2 linked regions of the Homo sapiens genome follow. Changing the gene in region 1 together with any one later gene gives a genetic interaction. Each region holds a gene or a part of one and is shown on either strand. Other genes may lie near its edges.

What was found.
Region 2: changes in ACACA (region 1) and SBDS together harm fitness less than expected from each alone (positive genetic interaction), as found in Homo sapiens cells (one large-scale study listed by BioGRID).

The regions. Positions count from the first base shown.
Region 1 is NC_000017.11:37,396,694-37,400,350, reverse strand, and holds part of ACACA (acetyl-CoA carboxylase 1), read left to right. Parts: intron 1-3,657. UniProt on the Homo sapiens protein: Cytosolic enzyme that catalyzes the carboxylation of acetyl-CoA to malonyl-CoA, the first and rate-limiting step of de novo fatty acid biosynthesis.
Region 2 is NC_000007.14:66,989,854-66,992,713, reverse strand, and holds part of SBDS (ribosome maturation protein SBDS), read left to right. Parts: intron 1-1,412; coding exon 1,413-1,577; intron 1,578-2,860. UniProt on the Homo sapiens protein: Required for the assembly of mature ribosomes and ribosome biogenesis.

The sequences.
Region 1 (3,657 bases):
GTCAGGGGTTTGAGACCAGCCTGGCCCACATGGTGAAACCCCATCTCTACTAAAAATACAAAAATTAGCCAGGCGTGGTGGTGCATGCCTGTAATCCCAACTACTCAGGAGGCTGAGGCATGAGAATCACTTGAACCCGGGAGGCAGAGGTTGCAGTGAGCCAAGATTGCATCACTGCACTCCAGCCTGGGCAACAGAGCAAGACCCTGTCTCAAAAACAAAAACAAACAAACAAACAAAAATATATATATGCTTGAAAATTGCTAAGAGAGTAGATTTTAGTTGTTCTTACCACACAAAAAAATAAGTATTTGCGGTAATGGGTATATATTTGAGGTAATGGATTTGTTAATTAGCTTGATTTAGCCATTCCACAATGAGTACATCTATCAACACATGTTGTACATCATGAATATACACAATTTTTATTTGCCAAAAAATGTTTAAATATGCCATAAGTAAATTAAATAAAATAAATTTCTTAGAACATTATTTATAAAAATAAAGCAAAAAACCAGATCTGTCCAAATATAACTAATAAACTGACTCTCATTATTTAACACTCAAGAGTTGGCTGGCATCAGGATTTTCATAATACCATGGCCATTAAACAGTTTTCGTGAATCCAGGCCTTCGTTACCCATCTCTTCTGCTTCTTCCTCACCTTACTGACTTCTTTCTCATGTACACAGAGTGCGGAATATCTGTCTCATGAGTCACCAGCCTTTGGGCAGAACCCAAAAAATTAGGTGAACTAGAAATATATTGTTGCTAAGTGGCTCGGTTTATCAGACAATTCTAAAATGCCTACTAGGCTGCCTAGCTGCATACTTTTCTGCCTAATGTACAGGACCTCCATCTTGTGACTGTCAAAACAGGCTCCTAAATTATTTTGCATCATTTGGTGACAGGCAGTCTATACTCTTGTGCAACCAACAGGTGCCCAATAAATGCTTGGAATATGCAAGGAACTTGGCATTGTTTAATATAATTGAAAAAGCAAGCATGGACTTTGAAACTTTCCTGAATTTGAATTCTGTCTCCACTCCTTATCACCTTTAAGAATTTAGGGCCTGGTGCGGTGGCTCATGCCTATAATCCCAGCACTTTGGGAGGCTGAGGCGGGTGGATCACTTGAGATCAGGAGTTCGAGACCAGCCTAGCCAACATGGTGAAACCCCATCTCTACTAAAAATATAAAAAATTAGCCGGGCATGGTGGTGCATGCTTATAATCCCAACTACTTGGGAGGCTGAGGCAGGAGAATCGCTTGAACCCAGGAGGCAGAGGTTGCCGTGAGCCGAGATCCCACCATTGCACTCCAGCCTGGGCAACAAGAGTGAAACTCCATCTAAAAAAAAAAAAGAATTTAGGGAAGTTATTATCTTCCTGCATCTCCTTTCTCCTCCTATGTAAAATGAAAATAATAATGTCTAATTCATAAGCGTTTCATAAGGATATGATGAAAGCCCGATGCAGTAGCTCACGCCTGTAATCCCAGCACTTTGAGAGGCTGATGTGGGTGGGTCACTTGAAGTCAGTAGTTCGAGACTAGCCTAGCCAACATGGTGAAACCCTGTCTCTACTAAAAATACAAAAACTAGCTGGGCATGGTGGCAGGCGCCTGTAATCCCAGCTACCCGGGAGGCTAAGGCAGGAGAATCGCTTGAACTCAGGAGACTGAGGTTGCGGTGAGCTGAGATCGTGTCACTGCACTCCAGCCTGGGCAACAGTGCCAGACTCTGTCTCAAAAAAAAAGCCCGGGCATGGTGGCTCACGCCTGTAATCCCATAATCCCAGCACTTTTGGAGGCCAAGGTGGGCGGATCACCTGAGGTCAGGAGTTCGAGACAGCCTGACCAATATGGAGAAACCACATCTCAACTAAAAATACAAAATTAGCAGGGCATGGTGGCGCATGTCTGTAATCCCAGCTACTCGGGAGGCTGAGGCAGGAGAATCACTTGAACCCAGGAGGCGGAGATTGCAGTGAGCTGAGATTGCACCGTTGCGTTCCAGCCTGGGCAACAAGAGCGAAACTTCGTCTCAAAAAAAAAAAAAAAAAAAAAAGTGATACCACAACAGCTAGAAGAGGAGGCCAAACTGTTTTTTTTTTTTTTTTGAGACAGAGTCTCGCTCTGTCACCCAGGCTGGAGTGCAGTGGTGCGATCTCGGCTCACTACAACCTCCGCCTACCTGGTTCAAGTGATTCTCCTGCCTCAGGCTCCTGAGTAGCTGGGAGTACAGGCGCGCGCCACCACGCCCAGCTAATTTTTTGTATTTTTAGTAAAGACGGGGTTTCACAGTGTTAGCCAGGATGGTCTCAATCTCTTGACCTTGTGATCCACCTGCCTCGGCCTCCCAAAGTGCTGGGATTACAGGAGTGAGTCACCGCGCCCAGCCCCCATTTTACATTTTTTTATTTGTGCCCACTGCCTTTTTTCAGAGGATGCAGTTAGCAATTTCAGCCACTGGATGGTGCAAATTCACAAGAGTCCAGTGAAAGTTCCTCAATTACGGTCCAAGGTGCACCTGTTGCTACACTGCACCAAGTGAAGGAGGGTGGGGTAAAGGAAAGACTTTTTGGATCTGAAATTTCAGTATAAACATGGATCGAAGTTCACTAGAAGTTCAGATTGAGGGAAATTTTTAGAATTTGATCACTGACAAATCAGGTCATTGAATAAGGAAAGACAAAAGAAAAGTGTTGTAATAATGAAGAGGAAGAGAAAAAGGAACAGATGATGAAATATGAGGGAAAATAAGTCTAAAGAGATGAATTCAAGTGTTAGCAACAATTATAGTATGACCCTTTACTGGTTTGCATCTCCCTGGTAACTGATAGCAACTTTGATATAAAAATAAAGCTTACTTCATTCTCTTCTAGAAAGTCAGCTATGCTACCCTTAGCTTATCCATTTGGTGGTGTGACATTATCAACAAATATTTTTAGTATCTGCTATGAACATGGTGCTTTGTTGATACAAAGTAATATAGAGATATACAAATTAACACAGATACTGGGCTTCAAGCAGAAGAACCAGTAAGTACATATAAGAAGATAAGTAATTGACTGGATTAAGAAAATGTGGCACATATACACTATGGAATACTATGCAGCCATAAGAAAGGATGAGTTCATGTCCTTTGTAGGGACATGGATGAAGCTGGAAACCATCATTCTGAGCAAATATCGCAAGGACAGAAAACCAAACATCGCATGTTCTCACTCATAGGTGGAAATTGAACAATGAGAACACTTGGACACAGGGCTGGGAACATCACACATCAGCGCCTGTCGTGGGGTGGGGGGATGGGGGAGGGATAGCATTAGGAGAAATACCTAATGTAAATGACGAGTTAATGGGTGCAGCAAACCAACATGGCACATGTATACATATGTAATAAACCTGGACATTGTGCACATGTACCCTAGAATTTAAAGTATAATACTACTACTACTATTACTAATAATAGGGAAGATAAGTAATTCAAGGCAACCTGAGGGCCATTGTGTCAACTCAGAAAATGGAATACTTTTTGAAAGTGGGAGTGGAGTATCAGTGGGATGGGGAGGAAGGGATCATAGGACTCTCAACCTGTCCAGGGCAAACAAAAAATAAAAAGATTTCTTCTGGCCTTTAGTCATAAGTACATG
Region 2 (2,860 bases), on another chromosome or scaffold:
AATATAAAAAATTAAATTTAAAAAAATGGGTCTGCATGGAAGCAAGTGGGTAGAGGTTTGGGGAAGAGATGGAGGAAAAGGACGGGGTTGTAAAGATAGGTAATTTTTTTTTTTCAAGTAAACACAAATATGTATATAGGACTTTCTTCTTCCTATCCAAATCAAACTTTTAAAGACAAAACTTGAGTTTTTAAAGGGTCATTTTAACACTTCTTTTTGAATTTTTTAATTTATATATAATTCACATACCATAAATTTCACACTCATAAAGTATGTACACTTTAAGTGGTATATTAACAAAGTTTTGGAACCTTCCCTGCTACCTGGTTCGAGAACATTTTCATCACCACAAAAAGAAAGTCAGTATCCATTAGTAGCCATCCCCCATTTTCCCCCCACAGGCCCCTCCCAACCACTAATCTCCTCTCGTTATGGACTTCTCAATTCTGGACATTTCATATAAATGGAATCATACAATATGTGGCCTTTTCATGGTTCATACATGTTGTAACCTGCATCAGCATGTCATTTCTTTTTTATGCCGGAATAATAGCCCACTGTACGGAAAGAAACACATTTTGTTCATTCATCTATCAGTTGATAGACATTGGGTTGCTTTCACTTTTGAGCTATGATGAGCAATGCTGCTATAAAATTTCTTGTATGTTTCTGTGTAGACATATGTTTTCATTTCTGTATACCTGGTGACTACCAAACCTATTTCTAAAACAGCTGCACCATTTTACTTTACCACCATCAGTGTTTAAGAGTTCAGTTTCTCCACATCCTCAGTAATACTTGTCATTGTCTGCCTTTTTGATGATGGCCATCCTGGTGGTATCTTGTCGTGGTTTTGATTTGCATTTCCTTAATGATGATTTGAGCATATTTCCATGTGCTTATTGGTGCCTCGTCTGTCTTCTTTTGAGAAATCTCTGTTCAGGTTCTTTGCCCACCCCCCCCGCCCTCTTTTTGCAAACTCTGCCTCCCGGATTCAAGCAATTCTCCTGCCTCAGCCTCTTGAGTAGCTGGGATTACAGGCGTGCACTACCACACCCGGCTAATTTTTCTTTTTTTGTATTTTTAGTGGAGACGGGGTTTCACCATGTTGGCCAGGCTGGTCTCGAATTCCTGACCTTGTGATGCACCCGCCTCGGCCTCCCAAAGTGCTGGAATTACAGGCGTGAGCCACCACACCTGGCCTTCACTTTCTTCATAGTTTTTTGAAACACAAAAGCTTTTCTTCTTGATAAGTCCAATTTTTCTATTTTTTTTTTAACGGTCACTTATGTTCTTAATGTTATACCTAAGAAACCATTACCTAATCCAACTACATGGAAACTACTTTGTTTTTGAAAACCTTATGAAATAATATAGTAGAAGAAATTGCATTCTCGATTTTGTCTTGGTAGGCTTTGGAAGTGATAAAGCAGTTAAAAGAGAAAATGAAGATAGAACGTGCTCACATGAGGCTTCGGTTCATCCTTCCAGTCAATGAAGGCAAGAAGCTGAAAGAAAAGCTCAAGCCACTGATCAAGGTCATAGAAAGTGAAGATTATGGCCAACAGTTAGAAATCGTAAGAGTCAAATATTTTCTTTGCTTCATGTTACCTAAATATTGTATTCTCTAGTAATAAATTTGTAGCAAACATTTAGATGTTGTAAACGTCAGATATTTTCTTTTCTTTTTTTTTTTTGAGATGGAGTCTCGCTCTGTTGCCCAGGCTGGAGTGCAGTGGTGCTATCTCAGCTCACTGCAAGCTCCGCCTCCCGGGTACACGCCATTCTCCTGCCTCAGCCTCCTGTGTAGCTGGGACTACAGGCACCCGCCACCAAGCCTGGCTAATTTTTCGTATTTTTTAGTAGAGACGGAGTTTCACCGTGTTAGCCAGGACGGTCTTGATCTCCTGACCTCATGATCCACCTGCCTCAGCCTCCCAAAGTGCAGGGATTACAGGCGTGAGCCACCGCGCCCAGCCAGATATTTTCTTAAGACTAAAGGTTGGTCAGCCTTGTTTACCACAAATCCTTTTATTTTTTTCCCAGCATTTATTTTTGTCATATATTATGCGTAGTGTTTTAGATACATGATTTTAGCAAATTTAGCAACTATTTAAAATAAGCCACTTAAAAATTGCTATTTTAGTGGAAGATTGATAATTCCAATTACCTTAAAAATTTTGCAAAAATTAGTACAAAGCACACTATGGAAATTTACATTGAGTTTTCAGAGATAGCTCAATTGCATGCTTTACTCCAGTGCTGATCATAATCCTAAAAGACAATCCCAAATGCCACAATCCCAATGTTGAAATCATAAAAAAATCAAAATCTCTAAAGTCCAAAGCCTGAACTTCTAATATCTTGAAAATCACAGTTCCAAAAGATTGAATCCTGGCTGGGCGCGGTGGCTCATGCCTGTAATCCCAGCACTTTGGGAGGCCAAGGCAGGTGGATCACCTGAGGTCGGGAGTTCGAGACCAGTCTGACCAACATGGAGAAACCCTGTCTCTACTAAAAATACAAAATAGTCTGGCGTGGTGGCACATGCCTGTAATCCCAGCTACTCGGGAGGCTGAGGCAGGAGAATCACTTGAACCTGGAAGGCAGAGGTTGCGGTGAGCCAAGATTGCACCATTGCACTCCAGCCTGGGCAACAAGAGCGAAACTCCATCTCAAAAAAAAAAAAAAAAGATTGAATTCTGAATGATGAAATTCTGAAAGCTGAATTCTGGCAAAAGGATTAGCACTCTTTGAGTTGTATGCAGGATAGTCGCGTCTGGTTAATTGCATCATGTGAGGAAAAGCTAGGACCTTGTTATTGTCTTCATTTGAAAATTAAAAATGGTTTAAAGAGATG